4 separate regions of the Homo sapiens genome follow, and regions 1, 3 and 4 are each linked to region 2. Evidence: fine-mapped expression QTL. A gene starts in region 2. Each other region holds a variant in brackets. All regions are shown on one strand. Distances are from middle to middle. Region 1 overlaps PITPNM1 (phosphatidylinositol transfer protein membrane associated 1). Region 2 holds the start of RAD9A (RAD9 checkpoint clamp component A). Region 3 overlaps LOC100130987 (a long non-coding RNA gene). Region 4 overlaps NDUFV1-DT (NDUFV1 divergent transcript).

Region 1 (6,323 bases), 100 kb after region 2:
AAGCAGCTGGCTCTGTTTGCGCAGGAAGTCCACGGGGGCAGCCACACCATAGCTGCTCTTGCCCAAGGCAGCTCTCGGGGGTCCCGAGGAGGCATGCGAGTGCGAGCCCGCTTCCAGCTGGCCCAGGTGGGCCACATAGCCGTCTGACAGGAACTGTGGGCAGAGGTAGGCAGCGATGAGGGGGTGCTGGCCAAGGGCCCACACGCTGCCCTCCACGGTCCTCCAGAGGCACCTGAGGCAGGCTGGGGGACTGGTGGCAGGCTTGGCACAGCCTGAGCTGAAGCCTTCTCAATAGATAGGACCCCAGGCTGGGAGCCAGGGCACCTTGGCTGTGCTCCTAGCTCTGCCCTTCTCTGGGCCTCAGTCTCCTCATCTGGAAAATGGGGTCTTAGAGGAAAAATAACAGCAGCCAATGTTTAGCCAGCACTTGCTTTGTGCCCAGCCCTGTGCCTGTTGATGTGATCTTCATAAGCTGACATGGGCAGTGCCATGATCATTTCCATTTACAGATGGGAAGCTGAGGCTCAGAAAGGTCACAGTGGAAAGCCATGGCCGAGTGGAACCAGCGCCTAGGGTCTTGAGCACTTTCCAGTGTGGGCTGTCCCCTCTGGCTTGCCTGGCAGCTGGCAGCTCAAGCTGCTCATGGCCCTTGTCCTCGGAGGATCCCAGGTTCCCTGGAGGCCGGTTAGGCCTTCTCACATCTTCCCCAGAGTCCGTGGTTCCCAAGGCCTGGGACTGAGGGCCCTGCCCCCTGGTGGGGTCCTGTTCCTGGCCTTCACTTGGGCCTCACCTGGCACTGCGCCTGTAGCTTCCGCACGGCACGGCCCACGATGTAGGTCTGGCTCGGGGACAGCCCCAGCGCCGCGTATACAGCCACATCTTTGGGAGACCCATAACCGGCCACGATGTTCAGTTCTACCTGTGGCGGGAGATGCCAATCAGCCGCCCCAGGGGTGGAGCCGTGCAGCTGGGGGCGGGGCCTGTTGGGCTTCCCCAGATTGTTCTGGGGGTGGGTCCAGGCAGACGGAGGCGAAGACAGGTCCCAGTCCCACGGGGACAGGGGCGGGACCAGCTGCATCTCCCTAGTTGCCCCTAAGTACACGGGGCCCCTCAAACTAGGGGAGCAGGACCGTAGCGGGCCGCTGCAGTCAGGCAGGGCCCGGGCCGATCCAGTTGGGAACAGATGGGCCTCCGCCGATCCGGGGGTGGAGGGTAAGGGGGAGCGGGGGCGGGGTCAGGACCCGGAGCCTCCCCCAGCCGCCGCACCTCCTGCACCAGGCTCTGCAGAAACATTGCCTTCTGGCGTAGTGGGTCGTGGGTGAGGCCGTCGCAGAAGGAGACGACGCCGTGGGGGAAGTTGTGCTGCGACAGCCATGCCACCACGCGGTGCTTCTGCATATCCGGCCGGCCTGTGACATACACGATCAGGTAGCCGGAGTCCTGCCAGTGCCTGTGGGGCGGGGGCAGCGGTCAGCTCCGCTGGCCAGGGGTGAGGGGCCGGTCACCCCGGTGAAATGGGTGGTGGTGGCAGTGGCAACTCCTACCTGACCACGTCCACGGCGCCAGCTCGCACCTTGGGGTCGCTGCCCATGATGGAGACGCTGGCGGTGAAGGAGCCGTCGATGCTGAAGACCACAGCCTCCGTGCCGCGGGCCACCACAGTCAGGCAGCATTCGGCATAGGTGTGGTCGCCCCTGCGGCCCACGGGGCGGGGCGTGAGTGGCGCGGGGCGAGGCCTGGCGGAGCCCTCCCGCAGAGGCCCGGCCAGCCGCGCTCACCTGACCACCATGCGCACGGGGTAGACACCAATGCCCAGCGCGCGTTCTGGGGGAACTGGGAAGGTGAGGCGGCCCGAGCTATTGGTGACTTCGGTGCCAAAGTGGATCCACTTGCCCGACAGCGGCTGCGTCATGATGTAGACATCCACCTGGAGGGGAGAAGGGGCGGGAGGTAAATGGGGGCCCTGCGTGGAGGTGGGCAGAGGCGGGGCTGTCGTCGGGGATGGGTGGGTCTAGGGGCACAACCACCAGGGACCAGGAGCTGTTCCGAGGACAGGAGATGGGGCCATGGGACCAGGCGACAGGGCCTCTGGGTCCTGACCTTCTCTCCAGTGAGCGTGACGACGTCCAGGGGCCCGTACATGAAGCGCCCGCTTAGCACCTGGGGGCGGCCCTCGCACACCACCGTGTCGCTCGCCCGGTGGTTGGAAGTGACGTTCTAGAGGGAGGAGAGGGCGTGAGTCCGCGGCCAGCAAAGGATGGGGATGCTTGGGGAGGGGGAGCGGGTGAGGATCCACACGCAAACACCGGGGTGGGGGCCTAGAGGCGGCGGGGCATTGAGGGAAAAGGGCAAGCCCGGGGGGCGCACTTTTGTGGACCCCGGCCTGAGAGCCTGTGTGTGGGCCGCGCCTCCAGGGGCAGAGCTGTGACAGGACGGGATGCAGAGGATGAGGCGAGGTGGGGACCAGCGCAGATCCAGACCCTAGACCCAAACTTCCCGCAGAGGGCGGGGAGACCAGCGGTTCCCAGGGGCGGGGCTGGGGCAATGAGGTGGGGCCAGGACCCCAGGGGCGGGGCAGGACTGGGAGAGAGTTGGATCGGCTAGGACCCGAGGAGGGGGGTGCTGGGGGGAGGGGCGGGGCCTCTCTGGTGAGTGGGCGAGAGTGGGCGAGTGGGCGAGGGGGCGAGGGGCAGGGCACCTACCCGGATCTTGACCTGCGTGCGTTTTCGCTGCCACTTCTCCCTGGGGAAGGCCGGGCTGTAGATGGACGGCTCCTCGCATTCCGCCAGCTGTGGCCGCTCCTTCTCGATCACCTGCACGGGACAGGGGGCGAGGCCTCTGTCTCTTAGGGGAGGGAGGGCTGCCCCTCCCCCGGCCCAAAGCAGCCCATCCCCGTCCCATTCTCATCTCCCATTCCATATTCCCAGGCCCACCTGGCGCAGGATGAACGCCACCACGTCGGCGGACTCCCAGTAGCTGGCGTGGAAGAGGTGGGGCAGCGTGACGGTGGGAAAGGCGGTGAGCGCCTCGGGGCAGTACAGCGAGTAGTCGATCCGCTTGGTCCCCCACCAGCGCTCCAGGACTGCGCGGCCATGGCAGCGAGTCAGGATGGCCTCCTGCCCCACACCCATCTGCCTGGGCGCTGGGTGCTCTTCCCTCCCCCCTTTTCACCCAGCCTGCTCTTTGCCAAGTCCAGGCTGTGTGCTGGGGGAAAGGGTTTCTCAGCTGGGCTTCGGAGGTGGAATACGGGCCTCCCCCACCCCCAGGCTGGACTGCCTAGGCTGGCTGACTTACTCTTAACCACCTCACTGGTGGTGCTGGGGGCGGCTGGCTGGGCCGGGGGGTCAGTGGCCAACTCACTGCCCTTCCAGAAGGCACCGCTAGTAGAGGTGGGTGTTGAGGGCACCAGCATCTCCAGCTCCTCCAGAAAGAGGCTGGAGTGCGTCTGCAGAGTGTCGGCTGGGGGAAGGAGGGCAAGGTCAGCAGGGGCCGGCCAGGTGGCTCTCCTGTCTTCTCACCCAGGGCTCCCCGCACCTCTGCCATCTTCCTGTGGCCCCTCTGGTCAGGTCCTGGCTGAGGCTGCACTGTGGCATTCTCTCCTCTCAGCCCAGTGGCCAGCTGCACTCCTGCCAGAATGCCTGTTGCCACCGCCCCAAACGCTGCACACCTGTGCCCAACACAGGCCCGCTTGGCCCATACATACCTGGGCATGCCCCGCAATAAATGTCTGCAGCACACCCCACACAGATGCAGCAGCGCACACATGCTGGCTGCTTGTATGGCAGCACACCAGCATCATGCTGCCAGGGGGCACCCTCTCTAGCTTGGCTAACCACCCCCACCCAACTTCTAGGCCCAGGAGGTCAGAGGGTCCTGGGGATCCAGACCCCCCCAGGGGGAAGGAGCGCCTGGTCCTGGGAGTGGTGGCCTGAGAGGTTTTCCATCGTCTGGGAGCCTCCTCATGTCTTCTGCTACCTCCTCCCTTCCTGTGTGTGCCCTCCTCCTTCTCCCCTTTATCTTGTTTGGGGGCGTACCCAGCAGCAGGGATGAGCCATCTCCCAGGGGGAACTTCTGGTAGCGGGGCACGGTCAGTGGGGCGATGGCCTGGAACTTCGGGGCCAGCAGGGGCTCGAGGCGTGAGGCGCAGGGGTC[A/G]GCCGCGTGGAAGAGGTTGTAGATCTGTTCACAGGCTGGGCGCATCTGGGCTGCTGGTACCCAGAAGACAGAGAAAGATTGTGGGGTCAGGGTTTCAGCTGGGCACTCTGGGAGGTAGGGGGTGTGGGAGCAGCACCCTGATGTCTGGTGTGACCCCGAGCCAGCACTTCCCAAACTGCACTCCCTGGGAAGTCAGTAGGGCCCTGCTTAAAGTGAGACAGGGGCTGGGCACCGTGGCTCATGCCTGGAATCCCAGTACTGCGGGAGGCAGAAGCAGATGGATCACTTGAGGTCAGGAGTTCGAGACCAGTCTGGCCAACATGGTGAAACCCCGTCTCCATTAAAAATACAAAAATTAGCTGGGTTCAGTGGCTCATTCCTGGAATCCCAGCACTGTGGGAGGCAGAGGTGGGTGGATTACCTGAGGTCAGGAGTTCGAGACCAGCCTGGCCAACATGGCAAAACCCTGTCTCTACTAAAAAAAATACAAAAATTAGCTGGGCATGGTGGCAGGTGCCTGTAATCCCAGTTACTTGGGATGCTGAGGTAGGAGAATCACTTGAACCCAGGAGGTTGCAGTGAGCAAGATCAGGCCACTGACACTCTAGTCTGGGTGACAGAGCGAGACTCTGTCTCAAAAAAAAAAAAAAAGGCTGAGAAGAGGGCAGCGGCTTCGATTTGCTGCTGTGGTGTCTGATTGACCCCTTCTAGTGCAGAACATCCCACGGGTGTGAAGCTCCTCCCAGTGGCTTTGGGAGACTCACCCTTGGCGAGTCCCTTCTTTCTGGGCCTCAGGTTCCCCTTCTGTAGCCAGGCCTTTGAATTAGTACAGTGGGGAAGTTGCTCATGCCTCGGATGAGAGGGAAGGCCAGAGGAGGTGGGGAAGGAAGGGGCAGACAGAGACTAGAGGCGCCCCCGCAGCCCCTAGGACTCACCCTCCAGGGCGGGCATCACAGTTTTGCGCAGAGCCAGCACCAGGCCCAGTGGGGAGCCGAAGAGGAAGAAGCCAGAGACCTTGAAGTCAAGGCGGGCAGTGCTGCTGGGGCCGTCAGGTGCCTCGGAACTGGCAGCGGGTGGGCAGAAGGCCGTGCTTGCCCGCCGGGGCTCCCAGGAGGAGGTGGTTGCGGGGGCTGCCTGAAGGCTGTGGGGGAGGAGGGGTGCTCAGTGCTGCTGCCTCTGTAGTCCATCATGTGCCCAGGGTAGGGGTGATGGGGCAGGGACGTCACCTGTTCTGAGAGCCCTCGGGCTCAGGACTGGCCATGTCGCTGGGGATGCGCTGGGGAGGCAAGGCCGAGGGTTCTGGGCTGCCCCGACCCAGGCCTTCCACACCATCTGCCAGGGGGTCCCGCACTGGGCCAAACTCCGGAGAGAGCAGCTCATTGTTCTGGATGGAACAGGAGACAGAAACATTCTTAGGCCTGGGGACCATTCGAATTCTACTTACTTAGAAGTGAGGAGCGAGGCTTGGGGGTTGGGCAGAGCAGAATTCCAGAGAAGACATGAACTGGCAGGGCAGCAGGGGGCCTGCCTGCTGGCAGAGGGGTGGCATTCCAGGGGGCAGAGACCTAGAGCCAGAGAGGGCCTTTCCGCTCCTGAGGAGGCCGGGTTTGGCTATACTGACCATGCTCCCACGGCGGCTGCTGCCCCGACTCCCGGTGCCCGCGTTAGCACTGTGGCAGAGTGCATCAAAGCCCAGGATGCCACCAACACCATCTCCAATCAGTGCGACCTGGGTGGGAGCAGGGGCACCATCAGGAGAGGCCTTGTCCTCACCCAGGCCAGACTACAGTGGGGGCTGCAGTGGAGGGCAGCAGATGGACTGTCCCTAACCGCTGACCTGCCCACAGAAGCCGGCACCCTCAGGTGAGCGCAGGAAGGCTGAGTAGGCCTGGTTGGTGCGGGCAATGACGGTGGCCACGGCGCCCTGGTAGCGGGAGGATGAGGTGGCCAGCAGTGGCAGGGCAGCCAGTGGAATGTGGTCTTGGGAGCGAGACAGGCTGTCCCCATCGTGGCTGTAAGGGCTCAGGCTGTAGGAGGGGGAAATGTGCGTGGGTGAGGGGCTTCCAGACCCACTCCTGCCATCCAAGTCCCCTGGGCCTGCTGGCAGGCCCTGGCTCTGTGGGTCCTCTGTGGGGAGCGTTAGCCCCAAGAGGCAACTGAAATGGAGCCAT
Region 2 (7,736 bases):
TGTTTGCTTATTTTTCCATGCCCTTTGTCAACAGGAATGGTTTACAGATATTTATTCATTCATTCATTTTTTGAGACAGAATCTCACTCTGTTGCCCAGGCTGGAGTGCAGTGGCGCGATCTTGGCTCACTGCAACCTCCACCTCCCAGGTTCTAGCGATTCTCCTGCCTCAGCCTCCTGAGTAGCTGGGATTACAGGCACGTGCCACCATGCCTGGCTAATTTTTGTATTATTAGTAGAGATGGGGTTTCACCATGTCGGCCAGGCTGGTCTTAAACTCCTGGCCTCAGGTGATCCACTTGCCCCGGCCTCCCAAAGTGCTGGGATTACAGGCGTGAGCCATAGCGCTCGGCCTACTTTTTTTTTTTTTTTTTTTTTTTGAGAAAGGGTCTGGCTCTCTTACCCAGGCTGCAGTGCAGTGGCGCTATCTCAGCTCACTGCAATCTCCACCTCCTGGGCTCAAGTGATCCACCAGCCTTGGTCTCCCACAGTGCTGGGATTAAGCATGAGCCGCCGCGCCCGGCTGGTTTACACATTTTTAAATGTAACACCTATTTATTCATTATTTACTGAGTGCCAGACCCTGTGTGAGGTACATACAGCAACAAACAAAACAGACATGGATGCTGGGTGTGGTGGCTCACGCCTGTAATCCTAGCACTTTGGGAGGCTAAGGCAGGAGGATCGCCTGAGCCCAGGAGTTCAACTCCAGCCTGGGCAACAGAAGGAGACCTTGTCTCTAACAAACATTTAAAAAATTAGCTGGCTGTAGTGGCATGCGCCAGTAGCCCTAGTTACTCGGGAGGTTGAGGTGGAAGGATCGCTTGAGCCTGGGAAGTTGAGGCTGCAGTGATCTATGATCGTGCCACTACACTCCAGCCTGGGTGACAAAGCAAGAACCCATCTTAACAAACAAAACAAAACAGAACAAACAAAACAAAGCCAAGGCCGGGTGCAGTGGCTCACGCCTGTAATCCCAGCACTTTGGAAGGCTGAGACGGGCAGATCAGTTGAGGTCAGGAGTTTGAGACCAGCCTGGCCAACATGGCAAAACCCCATCTCTAATAAAAATACAAGAATTAGCCGGGCGTGGTGGCACACACCTGTATTCCCAGGTACTTGGGAGGCTGAGGCACAAGAATTGCTTGAACCCCAGAGGCGGAGGTTACAGTGAGCCGAGATCGCGCCACTGCCCTCCAGCCTGGGCGACAGAGCAAGACTCTGTCTTCAGAAAAAACAAAAAACCAAAAACCAGACATGGTTCCTGCCCTTGTGAGGCAGACACACTAGTGAGGAAGACAGATGTTAAACAGGCAAACACACGCATGAAATAACGTGATAAGTGCTGTGGCTAAAACAGGGTCTAGCTAGAGTGTAATGGGATGCTGGTGGGGGCAGAAAAGACGGCACTGAGCCTGGAGGAAGAGAAGCACCGCCACGTTAGAAGGGGTAAGACGATGCCAAGTGGTGGGGACAGCTAAGGATGTGCTAAAATCCCCAGGTGGAAAAGGAAGTGGAGGGTTCAGGGAGCCCACAGGGTTGGCATGGCTGTGCAGGTGATCAAGGGGAGGCCACAGGTGGAGAAATGGGTGGCGGCGGCTCCTGCAGGTTCAGGGCAGAGTTTGGATTTTATGGCAACCACTGGAGTGTGCAAACACGGGAGAGGCATGACACAATGGACATTTTAGGAGGGTCACTTTGCTGCTGTATGGAGAGTGGCCTGGAGGGGGCAGGGTGGAGGCAGGAGACCACTGAGAGCTGTTACAGTCATCCAGGTGAGAGGATGGTGGCCTAGGCCTTGGAGATGGAAGAGGAGGGCAAAGTTGCCACCTGTTAAGTTGCCACCTGTTTGGGAAGCAGAGTGGTCAGGACTTAACTGAAAGACTGTGTAGGGGTGAGGGCGAGCATGAGGTCAAGGATGACTCCAGCATACTGAGCCGGATGCCCAGGGACAGGGGCACTATTTCCATGGATCCCCCGGGAAGGGGAAGGGAAGAGTAACCTCCTCCCCCAAGGCTCCACGGAAGGGGCAAGGGCTGGTGACGAGGGGAGCAGAAGGGAAGGAGAGGGAGAAACAAAGTGTATGCATGTATCCAAATGTGTACAATTATTATGTATCAATTCAACTCATTTGAAAGTGGGTCTGGAGAGCAAGGGTGGCAGAGATAAATATATCTTCTGCACTACCACAGGACCTGAGGGGCAAGGCACGGGCAGGCCCTGCAGGAATACAGGGATGCCCTGGGCCCTTCCAAGAACTACCAGAGCCTTGGTACTGTGGGGAGAGTAGGGGTCAGTGAGTTTCTCCAGGACTCCCTTACATTTTACACACGTGGACCCGGAAGCCCAGGGGAAGGGGAATACCTTCCAGCTGATGCATCCCCACCTGGCACACAGTCTGGTTTTTTTTTTTGAGATGGAGTCTCACTCTGTTGCCAGGCTAGAGTGCAGTGGCGCGATCTCGGCTCACTGCAACCTCCGCCTCCGGGTTCAAGCAATTCTCCTGCCTCAGCCTCCAGAGTAGCTGGGACTACAGGCGCGTGACAACATGCCCGGCTACTTTTTGTACTTTTAGTAGAGACGGGGTTTCACCATGTTGGCCAGAATGGTCTGGATCTCTTGACCTCGTGATCCGCCCGCCTCGGCCTCCCAAAGTGGTAGGATTACAGGCGTAAGCCACCGTACCCGGCCAGTCTGGGGTCTTTTAAAAATACAGACCCGGGGCTGGGCGCGGTGGCCCATGCCTGTAATCCCAGCACTTTGGGAGACCGAGGCGGGCGGATCACTTGAGGTCAGGAGTTCGAGACCAGCCTGGCCAACATGGTGAAACCCGTCTCTACTAAAAGTACAAAAATTAGCCAGGCGTTGTGGCAGGCGCCTGTAATCCCAGCTACTTGGGAGGCTGAAGCAGGAGAATCGCTTGAACCTGGGAGGCGTGATCGTGCCACTGTACTCCAGCCTGGGCGACAGAGCGAGGCTCTATCTCAAAACAAACAAACAAAAAAACCCCACACACACACACAAAAAACAAAAAACAGGCCGGTGCAGTAGCTCACTCCACTTTGAGAGGCCAAGGCGGAAAGACAGCTTGAACCCCACAGTTGAGACCGGCCTGGGCAACATGGCAAGACTCCGTCTCTACCCAAAAAAAAAAAAAAAAAAAAAGGGCCGGGCGTGGTGGGTGTGCCTGTGGTCCCAGATACTCAGGAGACTGAGATGGGAGGATCCCTTGAGCCCAGGAGTTCCAGGCGGCAGTGAGCCGTGTTCGCGCCACTGCACTCCAGCCTGGGTGACAGAGCAAGAATATGTCTCAAAAAACAAACAAACAAAAAAAGGCACATAACCACGATCTACCCTCGTAAAACGTTTCCAGAGCGTCCCAGCGGTGCCCCTCATCATCTGGCGGCCCCTACGCCTCTCTGAGACTCACAGACCTACTCCCCTCTCCAGGGGGCGGAGCCCACACCGCTGAGCATTTACTCTTGTTCTTCCCTCTGCCAGGGGCACCGTTCTACCCCTTTCTGCCTGGAGAAACTGCCGTTTTTCCTTAAAGGATCCTCGAAGCCGGAAGGAGCAGCCACCTCCCACTCCCGGCTGCTGCAAGCAAGCTGCTTTGACTTCTTTCTAGAGTTGGGGATTGCTGCTGGAGTCCGAGTCTCAGGCCCAGAGTGGGTGCGATGGTCTTGCTTGCACCCTGTATCCCCCGGCAGACGCCCGGGAACTCTACTAAGTGGGTGACCCCAGAGAGCTCGCCCCCACACTCCGACTCCGAGTCCAGCACTCGGTCCACTGCACAGGGACCTCGCGCCCCACAGCTGCGTCCTCTCTGACCTTCGCAATCCGGTGCGCGGCCCGCGGAACGCCCCGATCTCCAGGGGCACGGAAGGCCGAGGCGTGCCGGGGGAGCCAGGAGCAGCTGGCTGGCGGGCGCCGCGGGCCTCCCCGGTCACGTGACACCCCGGACAACGTGCGCCGTCACGTGACGGCAGAGCCTGTGAGCGTTTTTCTCACGTGACGGAGGCGCCTGCACGTGGACCAATGGGGAGGCGGGGGCGGGGCCGGCAGGGGCGGTGCGCGGGAAGGGACCCCGGACCCGGAGGTCGCGGAGAGCTGGGCAGTGTTGGCCGCTGGCGGAGCGCTGGGGCAGCATGAAGTGCCTGGTCACGGGCGGCAACGTGAAGGGTGAGTGCAGGTCGGCCTGGCAGCGGCGGTGCAGCAGCCGCGGAGCCGCCAGCCTAACCCCCTTCCGCTCTTCTCCCCGCAGTGCTCGGCAAGGCCGTCCACTCCCTGTCCCGCATCGGGGACGAGCTCTACCTGGAACCCTTGGAGGACGGGGTGAGGGGCTAGGGTGTGGGGGGCGGGTGGGACTCCAGCCGGGAGCGGGTAACCCGGACTAGAGTCTCGCCCCCACTAGGCGGGATGACCGCTGGCAGATTTGTCGGCAAAGTTTCAGTTTCTTAGTCTGGCGGCTGTCATCTTCCCAGGCCGGTGTGTGAATTGAGGAAAGCTGTCCTGCGAGCTCCCAGGGGGTGACGTGCACTTAGAGAAACTCGGGGAAGGCCTGGGTGTGCGACCCCTCCTCTGCGGCAGCAGCGCCGGGGCCGACTCTGAAGGCTTCCATGGGGAAAGGAGGGTTTTTCAGCAGGTGGTGGCGGAGCGGGAGGACGATAGGGCAAGTGTGTGAGCAGAAGCAGCCAGAGGGCTGGGTCTGTGGCTGCCCCCTGACCACGTCCCTCTCCCTGCTCTTCGTGGCCCAGCTCTCCCTCCGGACGGTGAACTCCTCCCGCTCTGCCTATGCCTGCTTTCTCTTTGCCCCGCTCTTCTTCCAGCAATACCAGGCAGCCACCCCTGGTCAGGACCTGCTGCGCTGTAAGATCCTGATGAAGGTGAGGCCCTTCCCTCAGCAGTGGCACTACTCCACCCCAGGAATCTCCACCAGCTGTGCCTCTGCCCTGGGGTACTCAGTAGATGCTAAGTGGGGAGAGAGACACGTGCAAGCCCAATCCATGCAAAACACAGGGAGGGCCATGGTAAAAGCATCACAGCGGGGACCTGAGAGGGTGGTGACGCTCAAGTTCGTCAAGAAAGGTAAGCACGTCTTTTGGCCGGGCGCGGTGGCTCACGCCTGTAATCCCAGCACTTTGGGAGGCCGAGGCAGGCGGATCACGAGGTCAGGAGTTCGAGACCAGCCTGGCCAACATGGCGAAACCCCGTCTCTACTAAAAATACAAAAATTAGCTGGGCGTGGTGGCACGCGCCTGTAATCCCAGCTACTCGGGAGGCTGAGGCAGGAGAATTGCTTGAATCCGGGAGGTGGAGGTTGCAGTGAGCTGAGATCGCACCACTGCACTCCAGCCTGGGTGACAGAGCGAGACTCCATCTCAAAAAAAAAAAAAAAAAAGGTAAGCAGGTCTTTCAAGGCATTCCAAGCATAAGGAAGAGCATGAATGAGGCCTAGAAGGATGCCAGTGCCCGAGGTGACGTGGGAGCCCTTTTCCCAGAGTTACATGCTGGGCCCATGATGGGTGTGGGCCTGCATGGGACAGGAGAGCTTGTTGCAGAGATGTGATGCTAGGCTGAGGTGTCTTATCCCATGCAGTCTTTCCTGTCTGTCTTCCGCTCACTGGCGATGCTGGAGAAGACGGTGGAAAAATGCTGCATCTCCCTGAATGGCCGGAGCAGCCGCCTGGTGGTCCAGCTGCATTGCAAGTTCGGTGAGTGGGCAGCCGGCCAGCCAAGGGGTGCCTCAGCAGGGAGGTCGGCGAGGCCCACTGAGACCCTATCGCCCATCCAGGGGTGCGGAAGACTCACAACCTGTCCTTCCAGGACTGTGAGTCCCTGCAGGCCGTCTTCGACCCAGCCTCGTGCCCCCACATGCTCCGCGCCCCAGCACGGTGAGCACACCCCTGCCCTCAGCTCAGCCCCGGGTCTCTCTCTTCCTTCTTTGGGGCCCCAAGGGGTTGATTTTAGAAGGTACCTCTTTCATTTTCCCTACAGAGTTTCTGTGAACCTCAAAGACATCCCATGGCCCGCTATGTGCTCAGGTCCTTACCTGGCTCTTTAAAGGCAGACGGTGGCATGGAGGAGGGGCAGGCGCCTCCTTGCTCCATTCTCCTTACTGTTAGGAGCCTGCATTCTCCATCCCAAAGGTCTGACTTGACTTTCTGGCTGCTCAAACCCATTCCAACTCCTCCTCTAGGGAGCACATTTCTGGCCTGCCACCAAATCTCTTGTCTGGCTTGAGTAACCTTGAAGGTCTGCCCATAACCTGTGGCTCAGAGGCTCAGACCCCTTCTCCGGCCTGGGCATCCTTCCAGAGGTGTTCCCCATTCAACGGCAGCCTCTTTTCCTGACTGCCCAGGATCGAGGAGTCCCCAAGGCCAGGGCAGGAGGCTGGAGGGAGGCTGAATAATCAGCTATGGGGTGGAGCTGTTCTGGGCAGTCCGAGCACTGGGGGCTGTCTGGGGCCAGGGAAATGGGGACTCCAGTTGAAGCAAACGTCCCTGGCGAGGACCAGCTCAGAGAGGAGTGGGCTCTCCCCCTGCTCCATGCTGGTCACTGCTTGCATTCAAGTGGCCCAAGGTCCTGCTCATTTCTCAGGGTGACTGAAGATCCCTTTGGGTCCTGACATCTGTTTCCCCAGGTTCTTTTGAGCCAGCACTGCTCAGAGCTCTTTTGGGTAGTGAGAGACGGGGGCCAATTCCTTGGTCTGCATTTAGGGTGGTGTCTTTTTTTTTTTTTTTTGAGACAGAGTTTCGCTCTTGTTGCCCAGGCAATGGCACGATCTCGGCTCACCACAACCTCCGCCTCCCGATAAAAGTGATTCTCCTGCCTCAGCCTCCCGAGTAGCTGGGATTACAGGCATGCGCCACCATGCCCGGCTAATTTTTTGTATTTTTAGTAGAGACAGGGTTTCTCCATGTTGGTCAGGCTGGTCTTGAACTCCCGACCTCAGGTGATCTGCCCGTCTCAGCCTCCCAAAGTACTGGGATTACAGGCGTCAGCCACCACACTCAGTCTCTTTTTTTAAAAATGAGCAATTGTTTCTCTCGTTTTGTTTTGAGATAGAGTCTCGCTCTGTCACCCAGGCTGGAGTGCAGTGGTGCAATCTTGGCTCACTGCAATCTCTGCCTCCCGGGTTCAAGCGATTCTCCTGCCTCAGCCTCCCGAGTAGCTGGGATTACAGGCATGCACCACCACGCCCGGCTAATTTATATATGTTTAGTAGAGACGAGGTTTCACCATGTTGGCCAAGCTGGTCTCGAACTCCTGAACTCAAGTGATCCACTGCTTCGGCCTCCCAAAGTGCTGGGATTACAGGCATGAGCCACTGTTTTTTTTTAAATCCTTGCGCAGGGGCCTTGCTCATCTTTTGCATGCTTCAGTTTTAGTGTATGTGCTGCCGAAGCAAGCACTCTGTCTCATGAATAATTTCAAATATATGTAAAAGCAGACGCAGCTCCCGTCCCCACTTGACTTGAAACAATTTCCAGATGTGATTTCATCTGTATGTCAATGGGTATCCTTAGAGGATAAGGATTTCAGGGCTCTTTCTGAAGGCCGGGTTTGTAGGGTGGCCTGAGTGCCACGTCCTGCCTCTGGGCCCTCTCCCTGGTCTGCATGGTCAGGTGCCGCCTGCCAGGTTTGAGCAACCACTGCAACCAGTCCCCTCCCTGCCACCTTCTCTGGGCCTCATCCACGGTGCGCTAGGCCTGCGCACATCCGTGCGTGTGCAT
Region 3 (7,736 bases), 62 kb before region 2:
TATAAGTTGAGACACACATTATTTGTCCTTTGATGTGTGGCTTATTTCACTTAGCATGTTTTTAAGGTTCACCCATGTTGTAGCACATGTTCAGAATTTCAATTTTTTTTTAAGGCTGAATAATATTCTCTTATATGGATAGACCACATTTTGTTTACCCATTCATCTGCTGATAGACGTTTGGAATGTTTTAGCCTTTGGCTGTTGTGAATATGCCGCCATAAACATTGGTTTACTAGTATCGGAGTCACTGCTTTCACTTCTTTAGGGTACATACTAAGAGTGGAATTGCTGGATAATATGGCAATTCTGTTAACTTTGTGAGAAACTGCCACACTGTTTTACAAAGTGACCAAGAAATAAAAATGCAGTATTATTATCTAGACTACAGATCATAATTACATTTCTCTAAATATCCCTATGTTTTCCATTACAGCTTTAAAAAATATCTGATTCAGGATTGAATGAGGGATCACTGATTGTATTTGGTCGTCATGTCTCTTGATTCTTCCTTAATTTAGAATAGTCTTCTTGTCTTTTTGTTTTTCATGACATTGACATTTTTGAAGAATCCAAGCTAGTTGGATATCCTTCAATTTGGGTCTCTTTGAATATTTCCTTATAATTAGATTCAGGGTAAGCCTTTTTGCAAGAATACTACATAATACTACAAGAATACTAAGGATATTGTATAACATATTCTTCCTATTTGTTGCATTACTTTAGTCATGTAATGTTGCTTTATCCCATTATTGATAATACTGTGTTTATTTTATTTTTTATTTTTATTTTTCTTTTGAGGCGGAGTTTCACTCTGTCGCCCAGGCTGGAGTGCAGTGGCACGGTTTCGGCTCAGTGCAACCTCTGCCTCCTGGGTTCAAGCGATTCTCCTGCTTCAGCCTCCCTAGTAGCTGGGATTACAGGCATGCGCCACCATGTCCAGCTAATTTTTGTATTTTTAGTAGAGACACGGTTTCGCCATGTTGGCTAGGCTGGTCTTGAACCCCTAACCTCAGGTGATCTGCCCGCCTTGGCCTCCCAAAGTGCTAGGATTACAGGCATGAGCCACTGCACCCAGCCGATACTGAGTTTATTTACTTGGTTAAGATGGTATCTGCTAGATCTCTCTATTGACAAGGAACTCTTTTCCACGTGTAAAAATAAATAACTTGGATGGTAAGTTGAGACCATGCGAATATGCTTTTCCCCAGCAATCTATCAGCCATTGGCCTTAGCATTAATAATCCTTGCCTAATTTATTTATTTCATTGTGTTTGTAATTTTTATTTATTTATTTATTTAATTTTAGAGACAGGGTCTTGCTGTGTTGCCCAGGCTGGAGTGCAGTGGCTATTCATAGGCGCAGCCATAGCATAATACTGCCTCAAACTCATGGGCTCAAGTAATCCTCCTAATAATACGTAATATTTACAGATGGAATTTTTTTTTTTCCGAGACGGATTCTCACTCTGTCGCATAGGCTTGAGTGCAGTGGCGTGATCTCAGCTCACTGCAAGCTCCACCTCCCGGGTTCATGCCATTCTCCTGCCTCAGCCTCCCGAGTAGCTGGGATTACAGGCGCCCGCCACCACGCCCGGCTAATTTTTTTGTTTTTTTAGTAGAGACGGGGTTTCACGGTGTTAGCCAGGATGGTCTCGATCTCCTGACCTCGTGATCCGCCCGCCTCGGCCTCCCAAAGTACTGGGATTAGAGGCGTGACCTACCACGCCCGGCCAGAATATTTTTTTTTTTTGAGATGGAGTCTCACTCTGTCACCCAGGCTGGAGTGTAATGGTTTGGTCTCGGCTCATTGCAACCTCCGCTTCCCGGGTTCAAGCTATTCTCCTGCCTCAGCCTCCTGAGTAGCTGGGGCTGCAGGCACGGGCCACTACACCTGGCTAATTTTTGTATTTTTAGTAGAGACGGGGTTTCACTGCGTTGGCCAGGCTGGTCTCGAACTCCTGACCTCATGATCCGCCGCCCCCGTCAGCCTCCCAAAGTGCTGGGATTACAGGCATGAGCCACCCGGCCTATAGACAGAATCTTTACAGAGGTGTTTTTTTTTTTTTTTTTTTGGATGCAGTCCTGCTCTAACACCCAGGCTGGAGTGCAATGGCGCAATCTCGGCTTGCTGCACCCTCCGGCTCCCAGGTTCAAGCGATTCTCCTGCCTCAGCCTCCCAAGTAGCTGGGACTACAGGCACACACCACCACACCTGGAGATATTTTGTATTTTTAGTAGAGACGGAGTTTTGCTGTGTTGGCCAGGCTGGTCTCGAACTCCTGACTTCAGATAATCCACCTGCCTCGGCCTCCCAAAGTACTGGGATTACAGGCATGAGCCACTGCACCTGGCCTACAGAGGTTTTAAGTTAAAATGAGGTCTTAGGGTGGATGCTAATCCTCTATGACTGGTGTCCTCATAAGAGAAAATTCAGATATAGACACATACAGAGGAAAGATGATGTGGAGACAGCCATCTATAGGCCAAGGGGAGAGAACAGAACCTAGAACAGATCCTTTTCTCATGGCTCCCAAAAGGAATCAGCCCTCTCAACACCTTGATCTCAGACTTCTAGCCCCCAGAACTGTGAGAAAATAAATTTCTGTTGTTTCAGCTACCCAATCTGTGGTTCTTTGTTATGGCAACCTGTCTTAGTCTGTTGTGTGATGCTGTAACAGAACATCTGAGACTGGATAATGTATAAAGAACGGAAATTTATTCTCTCATAGTTCCAAAAGTGTTCAAGTCTTCTGATTGCGTCCTCACATGGCAGAAGGTAGAAGAACAAGAGAGAATGAACTCTGTGTCTTCACATGGCAGAAAAGCAGAAGGGCAAGAGAGAGTGAACCCACTCCCACAAGCCCTCTTCATAGTGATATTAATCCATTCATGAGGGCGGAGTCTTCATGATCTAAAAAATCTTAGAAGACCCCACCTTCTAGGCTGGGTGCGGTGGCTCACACCTGTAATCCTAACGCTTTGGGAGGCTGAGGCGGGCGGATTACCTGAGGTCAGGAGTTCAAGACCAGCCTGGTCAACTTAGTGAAACCCTGTCTCTACTAAAAATACAAAAATTAGCCAAGCTTGGTGGCACATACCTGTAATCCCAGCTACTCAGGAGGCTGAGGCAGGAGAATCGCTTGAACCTGGGAGATGGAGGTTGTAAGGAGCTGAGATTGTGCCACTGCATTCCAGCCTGGGCAGCAGAGCAAGACTCCATCTCAAAAAAAAAAAAAAAAAAAAAGACCCCACCTTCTAACACTATTGCGTTGGGGACTGCGCTTTCAACACATCAATTTTGGAGGACACCTTCAGACCATAGCACAACTCCAGCAAACTAATGTAGACCTATGCCCAACCATATTAATAACTACTTTCAATATAAACACTCCAATTTAATACTCCAACTAAAAGACAGCAGCCTGGGTGACAGAGTGAGACTCTGTCTAAAAAAAAAAATCAAGATCCAACTATATAATACCTAAAAGAAATATACAGTTGACCCTTGAACAGCATGGGTTTGAACTGCCTGGATCCACACAAGTTCCTTCCCTCCCCTCCCCTCCCCTTCCCTTCTTTTCTTTTTCCTTCTTTCTTTTCTTTTTTTTTTTTTTGACGGAGTCTTGCTCTGTTGCCCAGTCTAGAGTGCAGTGGTATGACCTTGGCTCACTGCAACCTCTGCCTCCCGGGTTTAAGCAGTTCTCTGCCCCAGCCTCCCCAGTAGCTGGGATTACAGGCACCTGCCACCACACCTGGCTAATTTTTTTTGTATTTTTAGTAAAGATGGGGTTTCACCATCTTGGCCAGGCTGGTCTTGAACTCCTGACCTCGTGATCCACCCGCCTTGGCCTCCCAAAGTGCTGGGATTACAGGCGTGAGCCACCATACCCAGCCAGGTTTTTTTCAATAAATATATTGGAATTTTTTTTTAGAGATTTGCAACAATTTGAAAAATGTACAAACAAACCACATAGCCTAGAAATATTGAAAAATTAAGAGAAAGTTCGGTATGTCATGAATGCACCAAGTATAGCTACTGGTCTATTTTATCACTTACTACAATGAAATATAGATAAATCTATTATAAGAAGTTAAAATTGGCTGGATGAGGTGGCCAAGACCTGTAA[T/C]CAGAGCACTTTGGGAGGCCAAGCTGGGAGGATCACTTGAGGCACGTGCGTATAGTCCTAGCTACTCAGGAAGGTGAGGCAGGAGGATCACTTGAGCCCAGGAGTTTGAGGTCACAGTGAGCTGTGATCATGCCACTGCACTCCAGCCTGGGCAACATAGCCAGACCCTGTCTCTACAAAAAAATTGTTTAAAAAATTAGCTGGCCATGGTGGTACACACCTGTAGTCCCTGTTACTTGGGAGATTGAGGTGAGAGAATCGCTTGAGCCCAGGTTAAGGTTGCAGTGACCCATGATCATGCCACTGCACTCCAGCCTGAGTGACAGAGGGAGACCCTGTCTCAAAAAAAAAGAAAAATTTTGATGCCGTATTAAATCATAACTGCATAAAATTAGTACATACTGTACTACTGTAATAATTTCATAACCACCTCCTGTTGCTGTTGCATTGAGTTCAGTTGTTTCGAGTATCCACTTAAAATGCTGTGACACTAATCATCTCTGCATGAGCAGTTTGTCTATCTAGTAACTTGCCTATTGCAGTAAAAAGGTGATCTCTTGCAGTTCTCATGGAGTTTTCATTGTCTCGTGCAATGCCATCGACCTTGAATTTCAGCATAGGACCCATATGAAGTGCCACTGTTAATGCTGGGAGCACTCCAGGAAGCAGAGAAAAGTTATGACATTTCAAGAAAAATCTGAATTGCTTGATATGTTCCACAGATTGAGGTCTGTACCTATGGTTGCCCACTATTTCAATAGTCAGTGTAAGGACTATTGTAAAAAAAAAAAAAAAAAAAAATAAAGGAAATTGGTGAAGCTATACCAGGAGGTGTGAAAATCTTGCACTTTTTGCAAAATAACTTTTTATCTCATATTGAAAATTCACCTTTTATGTGCAGGGTTGCTATAAGAAAGGAGTACATGTAGACTCTAATATGATGTGAGAAAAAGTGAAGTCATTATATGACAACTTAAAGCAAAAGGAAGGTGAGGATCTAACGCTAGAGAGCTTAATGCCATCAAAAGATGGTTTGGTAGTTTTAGAAAGAGGTTTGGCTTTAAAAATGTCAAGAGAGGCTGGGTGCGGTGACTCATGCATATAATCCTAGCACTTTGGGAGGCCAAGATGGGAGGACTGCTTGAGCCCAGAAGTTTGAGACTAGTCTGGGAAACATGGCAAAACCCTATTTCTACTAAAAATCCTAAAAATTAGCCAGGCATGGTGGCATGCACCTATTGTTCCAGCTACTTGGGAGGCTGAGGTAGGAGAATCACCTGAGTCCGAGAGGTCGAGGCTGCAGTGAGCTGTGTTAGTGCCACCGCACTCCAGCCTGAGTGATGGGAGTGAGATTCTGCCTCAAAAGAAAAAAAAAAAAGGTCAAGATAACAGGAAAAGCACCTTTTACCTTCCAAGAGACAAAAGATGAGTTCTGAGATGCCAATAAGAAAATAACTGAGGCCCAGCGCGGTGGCCTACACCTATAATCCCAGCACTTTGGGAGGCCGAGGTGGGTGGATTGCTTGAGTTCAGGAGTTTAAGACCAGCCTGAGTAACATGGTGAAACTCTATCTCTACTAAAAAAAAAAAAAAAAAAAATACAAAAAATTCACCAGCTGTGTTGGCAAATGCCTGTAGTCCCAGCAACTCAGGAGGCTGAGGTGGGAGGATCACCTGAGTCCAGGAGGTTGAGGCTATAGTGAGCTGTGATTGTGCCACTGTACTCCAGCCTGGGCAATGGGAGTGAGAACTTGTCTCAAAAAAAAAAAAAAAAAAAAAAAAGAGGAGGAGAAAAGGTACCTGCCTGAACAGGTTTTTAATGCAGAAGAAAAGAGAAAACCACAAAAGACCTTTCTTAGTAAGGAAGAGAAGTGAGCAGTAGGATTTAGGAAAGAAAAGAGACTAACTCTATTGTTTTGTGCAAATGCAGTCAGGTTTATGATGAAGGCTGCCCTTATCTATAAATCTGCTAACCCCCAAGCCGAAGGGAAAAGAAAAACACCAGCTGCCAATTTTTTGGTTGTACAACAGGAAAGCCTGGACAACGAAAACCCTTTTTCTGAATTGATTTCATTGATACTTTGTCCCTGAAGTCAGGATGTACCTTGTCAGTAAGGGGATTGCCTTTTTTTGTTGTTTTTTGAGATGGAGTCCTGCTCTGTCATCCAGGCTGGAATGCAGTAGCATGATCTCAGCTCACTGCAGCCTCCACCTCCTGGGTTAAAGCAATTCTCCTGCCTTGGCCTTCTAAGTAAGTGGGATTACAGGCACGCACCACTATGCCCAGAGAATTTTTGTATTTTTAGTAGAGACAGGGTTTCACCATGTTGGCCAGGCTGGTCTCAGACCCCTGACCTCAAGTGATCCGCCCGCCTCGGCCTCCCAAAGTGCTGGGATTACAGGCGAGAGCTACCACACCTGGCCTGGGATTGCCTTTTAAAATTCTCTTGTTATTGGACAATGCCCTTGGCATTGAACCCCATCAGTTCAATACCGAAGGTGTCAAAGTGGTCTGCTTGTCTCCAAACACATCGTCTCTAATTCAGTCTCTAGATCAAGGGGTTCGTAAGGACCTTAAAGGCTCATTACACATATACATGGTACTCTATGGAAAGGACTGTCAACTCTATGGAAGCGAACCCTGATAGAACATCGTGAAAGTCTGGAAGGATTATACCACTGAAGATGCCATCATTGTTATGGAAAAAGCCATGAAAACCATCAAGCCTGAAACAATAAATTCCTCCTGGAGAATACTGTGTCCAGATGTTATGCATGATTTCACAGGATTGATGATAAAGCCAAGCAAGGAAATCATGAAAAAGATTGTGGATATGGCAAAAAAGATGGGGTGAAGGGTTTGATATGGATCTCAGAAAAATTGAAGAGCTTAATAGACACCACCCAAGACGAATTAACAGAAGATGACTCGATAGAGATGAGTGCTTCTGAACCTGTGCCAGATGAAGAAGAAGATGTAGAAGCAGCAGTGGCAGAAAATAATTAACATTAGTCTAGAAGAAGGGTTCTGATTATTCAGGACCACTTTTGACATTTTTTATGACATGGACCCTTCTGTGATGCAGGCACTGAAACTCAATCAAACAGTGGAAGAAGGATTAATACCATATAGCAGGGGTCCCCAACCCCCAGGCCACCGGAACCAGGCCATATAGCAGGAGGTGAGCAACGGGTGAGCAAGCGAACACAAGCTTCATCTGCATCTACATCTGCTCCCCATCACTTGCATTCCCACATAAGCACCACCTCTTGTCAGATCACAGGAGAGCGAACCCCATTGTGAACTGTGCGTGTGAGGGATCTAGGTTGCCAGCTCCTTATGAGAATCTAATGCCTGGTGATCTGTCACTGTCTTCTGTCACCCCAGAAAGGACCATCTAGTTGCAAGAAAACAAGCTCAGGGCTCCTACTGATTCCACATTATGGTGAGCTGTCTAATTATTTCATTATATATTACAATGTAATAATAATAGAAATAAAGCACACAATAAATACAAAGTGCTTGAATCATCCCGAAACTACCCCCTTAACCCCATCTATGGGAAAAAAGTCTTCCATAAAACTAGTCCCTGGTGCCAAAAAGGT
Region 4 (7,736 bases), 210 kb after region 2:
CAGTGGCAAAATCAGAGCTCCTGGGCTCAAGCAATCCTCCTGCCTCAGCCTCCTGAATAGCTGAGACTACAGGCATGAACCACCATGCCCAGCTAATTTAAAAAAATTTATCAGGCCAGGCATGGTGGCTCATGCCTGTAATCCCAGCACTTCAGGAGGCTGAGGCAGGTGGATCACTTGAGCTCAGGAGTTTGAGACCAGCCTGAGCAACATGCCGAAACCTCGTTTCTACAAAAAATACAAAAGTTAGCCAGGTGTGGTGGCACAGGCCTGTAGTCCTAGCTAGTTAGGGGGCTGAGATGGGAGGATTGCTTGAGCCCGAATTCTTTTTGGTTTCTCCAATTTAAGTGTCTCCCACTTTTCTGACTTGTAATCATTAAGAACAAGGATTGCTTTGTTCCTAAAGCCCTACAAGCAGGATATGGACAACTGGATTAAACTTCAGAGAAAACCCCTCATGCCTGATGTAGGGAGCACTTGAGGAGTTTGCTGAAATGCCTTCTGCCATAAACAGAGATATTAAAACCACAAATCAGGAAAATATGCTTCAAGCTTCAATCTAGGAATCTTGATTAACTGACCCCTGGACTCAGAGACTATATTTATAGTTTGTTCTGGTTATCTCCCTGAGTGAGAACTGAGCCCATTCAACCCAGATTCATATGTTTGCAAGGTGTCTTTGAAAAGGAGAGAGAGAGAGAGAGAGAGAACAAGGTGAAGACACACTTGTTCCCGGCTGCCCAGGCCTGGAAGTGACACACTTCATTTCTGCCCCATTTGGATGCAAGAAGACTGAGAAACAGTTTAGCTCTGTGTCTGAGAAGAGGAAATGAGTTTGTGATATCTAGCCAGTCTCTATCACATACAACCAACCCATGCTTTAAAAATGAAAAATAAAATAAAATAAAAATATAAAACAAATCCATGCCTATCTTGGAACTCAGTATGTACTAGCAGTGGTATCATAAATAAGTTTGAAAAGAAGAGTTATTTAGATAGCATTAGTGAAACTGATTCCACCTATTAAGAAAAATTACTGGATCCTTACCTCACACCATATACAATAAAATCTAAACAGATCAGTGGTTCTCGAGAGGAGGCAATGTTGTCACCCAGAGGATATTTGGTAATATCTGGAGACATTTTTGTTGTCCCAACTTGTGGGGTGCTATTGACACCTAGGGATGCTGCTCAACATCCTCCAATGCACAGGGCAGCTAGCAAATAAAGCCCCAGTGGCCACAGTGTCAAGGTTGAGAAGCTCACAGCAAAGCCCCAAATGGCCATAGTGTCAAGGTTGAGAAGCCCTGCACTAGGGTTCACCTACACTTGAGAGAGAAAAATAAAATACTAACAGAAAAAAATAATTAAAGAAAGTTTCTTATGACCTTGGGCTAGGAATAGATTTCTTTTTTTTTTCTTTTTTTTCTTTTTGGAGTTTAAAACTTTTTATTTGGAAATAATTTCAAAGTTATAAAATGTTGCAAAAAAATTTTTTAAACTACCAAAAACAGCCATATTTACCGTTTACCCAGATTTACCTATTCAACATTTTATACCATTCACTTCATTATTTTCTCTCTCTCTCTCTTTTTTTTTTTTATTGATCATTCTTGGGTGTTTCTGGCAGAGGGGGATTTGGCAGGGTCATAGGACAATAGTGGAGGGAAGGTCAGCAGATAAACAAGTGAACAAAGGTCTCTGGCTTTCCTAGGCAGAGGACCCTGCGGCCTTCCGCAGTGTTTGTGTCCCTGGGTACTTGAGATTAGGGAGTGGTGATGACTCTTAAAGAGCATGCTGCCTTCAAGCATCTGTTTAACAAAGCACATCTTGCACCGCCCTTAATCCATTTAACCCTGAGTGGACACAGCACATGTTTCAGAGAGCACAGGGTTGGGGGTAAGGTCATAGATCAACAGCATCCCAAGGCAGAAGAATTTTTCTTACTACAGAACAAAATGAAGTCTCCCATGTCTACTTCTTTCTACACAGACACAGCAACAATCTGATTTCTCTATCTTTTCCCTGCCTTTCCCCCTTTTCTATTCCACAAAACCGCCATCGTCATCATGGCCCCTTCTCAATGAGCTGTTGGGTACACCTCCCAGACGGGGTGGTGGCCGGGCAGAGGGGCTGGCCCCCACCTCCCTCCCGGACGGGGTGGCTGCCGGGTGGAGACGCTCCTCACGTCCCAGATGGGGTGGCTGCCGGGCGGAGGCGCTCCTCACTTCTCAGACCGGGCAGCTGCCGGGCGGAGGGGCTCCTCACTTCTCAGATGGGGCGGCTGCTGGGTGGAGGGGCTCCTCACTTCTCAGATGGGGCAGCCGGGCAGAGACGCTCCTCACCTCCCAGATGGGGTCGCGGCCGGGCAGAGGTGCTCCCCACATCCCGGACGATGGGCGGCCGGGCAGAGATGCTCCTCACCTCCTAGACAGGATGGCGGCCGGGAAGAGGCGCTCCTCACTTCCCAGACTGGGCAGCCGGGCAGAGGGGCTCCTCACATCCCAGACGATGGGCGGCCAGGCAGAGACGCTCCTCACCTCCCAGACGGGGTGGCGGCCGGGCAGAGGCTGCAATCTTGGCACTTTGGGAGGCCAAGGCAGGCGGCTGGGAGGTGGAGGTTGTAGCTGGCCGAGATCACACCACTGCACTCCAGCCTGGGCAACATTGAGCACTGAGTGAACGAGACTCCGTCTGCAATCCCGGCACCTCGGGAGGCCAAGGCTGGTGGATCACTCGCAGTTAGGAGCTAGAGACCAGCCCAGCCAACACAGCGAAACCCCGTCTCCACCAAAAAAACCGAGATAGATTTCTTAAATAAGGCCCCTAAATGAATGAATTTAACTATATCAAAACAAAAGATTTCTCTTTTTAAATTTTTAATGGATACATTGTACTTGTACATATTTATGGAGTACAATTTGGTGGTTCCATATACATATATGTGTTTTATAATGATCAAATTAGGTAGGCTGGGCATAATGGCTCACATCTAGCATCCCAGAACTTTGGGAGGCCCAGGCGGAAGAATTGTTTGAGCCCAGGAGTTCAAGGTCCCCCTGGGCAACATTATGAGACCCCATCTCTATAAAAAATTAAAAAATTAGTGGGGTGTGGTGGTTCATGCCTGTGGTCCCAACTACTTTGGAGCTGAGGTGGGAGGATTGCTTGAGCCCAAGAGGTCAAGGCTGTAGTGAGCTATATTCCCATCACTGCACTCCAGCCTGGGTAATAGAGGGAGATCCTGTCTCAAAAACAAACAAATTAGGATATTTAGTGTGACCATCACCTCATGCATTTATCTGAAGTTTTCTCTTGTACAATGATCATTATTGTTTATTAGATTATCAGATAGATGATAAAGGAAATATTTGCAACATTTGACAGGAAGAGGGAGGACCTGTGGTTTTTAATGGTGGAGCTGGGATTCCCACTAATCCTTCAGAATACCCCAAAAGCCACAAAGACCATGAAAACCAAAACACACATTCCATCTAAATACACACTTTATCTCTTATGAAAGTAGGAGACTCCCAGCACTTTGGGAGGCTGAGACAGGCAGGTAACCTGAGGTCAGGAGATAGAGACCAGCCTGGCCAACATGGTGAAATCCTGTCTCTACTAAAAATACAAAAATTAGCCGGTCCCAGTGGCATGTACCTGTAATCCCAGCTACTCGGGAGGCAGAGGCACGAGAATCACTTGAACCTGGGAGGTGAAGGTTGCAGTGAGCCGAGATCGTGCCACTGTACTCCAGCCTGGGCGGCGACAAAGCGAGACTCTGTTTCAAAAAAAAAAAAAAAGAAGAAGAAGAAAGAAAGAAAGTAGGACACATCTCAAGTGACTACAGTTAAGAGCATCTGTGCACCAAGTAACATATCTGGGCACCTATACAACAAAAGCTCACAGATAGACAAGGACTCTGGCAGTTTTAAATAAGATTTCAAACTCTGCCATAGGAAAGCAGAGAGGCACCACCCTTCAATTGCTCTTGGGACATTTACTATAATAATTATGTATTATGCCTTAAAGGAAATTTTAGAACATTCCAGGGATTAAGAGGGGTGGGGAGAGGGAGAGAAATAGTACAGATGACAGTCTTTCATTATGAGGCAATAAAATGAAAAA[T/C]AACAAAACCGGGAAACAAAATCCCCCTAACCCCTGTACATTTATAAATCTTTCTTAAAATGACTCCCGTCAAAGAAGAAATCAAAACCAAAATTGCAGAACATCTAGCGAATGATGATAAAGATGCACTATATGTAAGAACTATTGGTCTACTTGACTGGATTGCTATGGCTTTAGAATCAGTCTTGCTATCTGCCAGGGCGAAACCCACCACCCACCCCATCTTCTTCTTCAAAATTGTCTTGGCTATTCTTGGCCCTTTGTTGTTCTATATACATTTTGGTGTCAGCTTTCCCACTTCCATGAAAAGCCCTGGTGGGATTTTGATGGGAATTTGCAGTGAATTTACAGATTAATTTGAAGATGTGACACTTTTATGATATTAAGTCATCCACCTGGTGAAAGCCCTGTGAACCAGCCTGGCTCCCCCATCCTCCCAGCAGCTGAGGGGCCAACTGGCGGGGACTGTGGGTGCACGATAAAGGAAGGAAGCCATAAATACTGGCCATGGCCTCATGACCGGCTGCAGCCACAGAGGTCCCCTTCAATGTCCTTTGTGGCTTTGAGTTTTGCATAGTGGGAGGAAATTGTCTTTGCAAGGTGCAAAGTGGCCCCAGGAGGAAGAAAATGTAATAGAAGACAACTGCTCAACCTGTTTCTGATCATAAAAACTCAACAGTCTTTTTCTTTTTCTTTTTGCTGATTTATAAGATGAGGCCTGACATTTCTAAAACCTGAACCATTGAGGAATGGGGAAGACGAGTTTCACATTTCTCACAGCTTAGAAGGGGCGTTGAAGGGGTGTGTAAGCTTTTCCTGGTGTCTGTCATCCCAGATAGCCATCAAGGACTATGAGGAGTGAAAAAGAAGAGACTAGAGCTTTCGTGTTAAGGGACAAGAGCTTTTGTGTTAAGGGACAAAGGGGGTATAGGCAAGACTTCAGGTGACAACAGGGGGATGGGCAAAGGACCAATGCAGAAACAATCGTTACCTAGACCTGATCTTCTGGGTTTCCGGATGTGAGTTTGCTGCAGGGAGGCGCCAGCAGGACCGGACCCAGGGGACTGATACCGGTACCTGGGGTCTGTGTATGCCCAAGACCTCCCTGGTCCTCCGTGATGGAAACTGCAGACCATGTCTAATGCATCAGGATGGTATATGCCAAAGAGGGACCCTGAGACCCTGGCAGAGTGATGGAGAGTGGCCACACCAGGATGGCGGCGCGGAGGGTATTCCATGGCCCCTGAGCTGGGCCAGCAGGGAGAGAGGCCTGGGCCTGATGCGTCATTCATTGTGCTGCTTGCCTTAAATACTTTCACCTTGTCCTTTGCGTGCCCCACCAGCCGTGACTGATAGACTTTACTCTTTCCAGTTTAAATTCATGGAAAAAAAAGATTTCCAGTTCAAGACAGCAGGATACAACCTGAAACCCACTATGTCTTTCTCAAACACATCAAGACCAGAGAAGAAAAACTAGAAAAACTTTTTTTTTTTTTTTTTAAGACGGAGTCGCTCTGCCACCCAGGCTGGAGTGCAATGGCACGATCTCGGCCCACTGCAATCTCTGCCTCCCGGGTTCAAGGAATTCTCCTGCCTCAGCCTCCCGAGTAGCTGGGATTACAGGCACCTGCCACCATGCCCGGTTAATGTTTTGTATTTTTAGCAGAGACGGGGTTTCACCATGTTAGCCAGGATGGTCTCGAATTCCTGGCCTCAAGTGATCCACCCGCCTCGGCCTCCCAAAGTGTCGGGATTATAGGCGTGAGCCACCGCACCTGGCCTGTATTTCCTATTTAGCATTCTTTCCCTGTATTTCTTCTTTACTTTGTTTTCTTGTCTTCAGTTGAATTGAGGTTTTTGTGCTAGTCCCTTCTCCCCTACTATTGGAAGTTACACATTTTACTTTTATTTTTAGTGATTACTCTTAAATTTTTAGATCATACCTAAATTTCATGTCCAAGCAAAAGCTAATATCTCTATCCCCCTTCCTGAATATGAAGTGAAAACAAAAACAGAGTATATGTCCAGGCGCAGTGGCTCATGCCTGTAATCCCAACACTTTGGGAGGCCGAGGTGGGCGGATCACCTGAGGTCAGGAGTTCGAGACCAGCCTGGCCAACATGGAGAAACCCTGTCTCTACTAAAAAAAAAAAATAAATAGCCGGGCACGGTGGCGCATGAGTGAGCCGAGAGTTCACGAGTTCGAGAAAAAGTAACAATTTGGCCAGATTCGGTGGCTTACGCCTGTTATCCCAGCACTTTGGGAGGCTGAGGTGGGTGGATCACCTGAGGTCAGGAGTTCGAGACCAGCCTGGTCAACATGGTGAAACCCTGTCTCTACTAAAAATACAAAAATTAGCCAAGTGTGGTGGTGTGCACCTGTAATCCCAGCTACTTGGGAGGCTGAGGCAGGAGAATCGCTTGAACCCAGGAGGCAGAGGTTGCAGCGAGCTGATTGCACCACTGCACTCTGGCCTGGGTGGAAAGAGCGAGACTCCATCTCAATAAATAAATATTAAAAAAAAAATCACCTAGAAACAGTAACAGGTATTGTCAGGATGGTCATAAAATGTTATTACTTTCTTCTTGCTTTTTTGGTATTTCTTCAATTTCAAACACAGGAAAAAAATTGATGTTTTTCATTTTTCAAATATAATATTTGATTACAATATTGAGTAAGTCCCTCCCTTGAGAAGCTCTATGCTGGGGGTTGGGGAAGATCTGATCGTGCCTTACTCACACTGGGCCTGACAATAGGTGCTCAAGATAGTTGTATGGGGTTGTTGTAGGACCAACAGGTTTGTATGCCCATATGTATGCAGTAACAGACCAATTACACTGAGATAGCAGGGTTTGCAGCAGAGAAAGAGTTTAATGATTGCAGGGCACCAAGTTTGGAGATGGGAGGAGACCTTCAAATCCATCTCCCCAAGGAGTTTTGGACTGAATTTTTTAAGGAGATTGTGGAGGGCAAGGGGCTGGAAATTTGGGATTGTTGATTGCCTAAGCAAGGGGCATGAAATAATTGGGATTGGAAACCGCATTCTTTGGTGAGCCAGCTCCTCATGGGGACCAGTTGAGTCAGTAGTTTTATCAGCATGCAGGATCTGAAGGAATACTTCAAAAGGAAAATTTAGCATTTCATGTTCAAGTTGTTATTTATACAGCAGTTAAGGGCAGCTATAATCTAGGGTCTTTGTCACTCCGGGACAACAGGCACCAACCAGCCATGAGGAAGCAGGTCAGAGAGCAGCTGACCTCATGATGAATACTGAGTATGCTGCAGGCTTGGTTTATTTTCATCTTTTCCCCCTACTTCTTCCCTAATTTGTAGGGGTGGGTTGCCCCTACACACCTGTGGGTGTTTCTCGTAAGGTGGGACGAGAGATTTGGAAAAGAAAAAGACACAGAGACAAAGTATAGAGAAAGAAATAAGGGGACCCGGGGAACCAGCGTTCAGCATATGGAGGATCCCGCCAGCCTCTGAGTTCCCTTAGTATTTATTGATCATCTGTGGGTGTTTCTCGAAGAGGGGGATGTGTCAGGGTCACAAGACAATTGTGGGAAGAGGGTCAGCAGACAAACACGTGAACAAAGGTCTTTGCATC

Evidence for each region. PIP is the estimated chance that this variant, and not a neighbour inherited with it, causes the effect.
Region 1: its variant is the best candidate, but not a certain one, in a credible set for the expression of RAD9A in tibial nerve (GTEx, PIP 0.83).
Region 3: its variant is the best candidate, but not a certain one, in a credible set for the expression of RAD9A in skeletal muscle (GTEx, PIP 0.86).
Region 4: its variant is the best candidate, but not a certain one, in a credible set for the expression of RAD9A in transverse colon (GTEx, PIP 0.63).

The regions. Positions count from the first base shown.
Region 1 is chr11:67,492,144-67,498,466 of GRCh38, forward strand. It overlaps PITPNM1 (phosphatidylinositol transfer protein membrane associated 1), which reads right to left. Exons shown (of 24, transcript NM_004910.3): 11 at 5,990-6,179; 12 at 5,774-5,881; 13 at 5,379-5,536; 14 at 5,088-5,293; 15 at 4,035-4,205; 16 at 3,295-3,459; 17 at 2,934-3,082; 18 at 2,703-2,813; 19 at 2,101-2,217; 20 at 1,779-1,927; 21 at 1,545-1,694; 22 at 1,267-1,450; 23 at 791-919; 24 at 1-153. Among named protein-coding and RNA genes, the nearest start is that of MIR6752, 5.1 kb to the left of the region's middle. The variant A/G (reference allele first, on the strand shown) is at 4,153.
Region 2 is chr11:67,387,897-67,395,632 of GRCh38, forward strand. It overlaps RAD9A (RAD9 checkpoint clamp component A), which reads left to right and starts at 4,090. Exons shown (of 11, transcript NM_004584.3): 1 at 4,090-4,182; 2 at 4,265-4,335; 3 at 4,758-4,886; 4 at 5,600-5,714; 5 at 5,795-5,894. The coding sequence starts at 4,149. LOC100130987 (a long non-coding RNA gene) reads left to right here. Exons shown (of 4, transcript NR_024469.1): 4 at 3,502-3,791. It also overlaps the pseudogene RNU6-1238P. RefSeq lists enhancers at 3,257-4,172, 4,207-4,711 and a silencer at 3,937-4,306.
Region 3 is chr11:67,326,177-67,333,912 of GRCh38, forward strand. All of the region lies in intron 2 of LOC100130987 (a long non-coding RNA gene), which reads left to right. Among named protein-coding and RNA genes, the nearest start is that of POLD4, 24 kb to the right of the region's middle. The variant T/C (reference allele first, on the strand shown) is at 4,131.
Region 4 is chr11:67,595,897-67,603,632 of GRCh38, forward strand. NDUFV1-DT (NDUFV1 divergent transcript) reads right to left here. Exons shown (of 3, transcript NR_130935.1): 3 at 6,984-7,736. Among named protein-coding and RNA genes, the nearest start is that of NDUFV1-DT, 6.9 kb to the right of the region's middle. RefSeq lists enhancers at 4,761-4,810, 7,592-7,736. The variant T/C (reference allele first, on the strand shown) is at 4,129.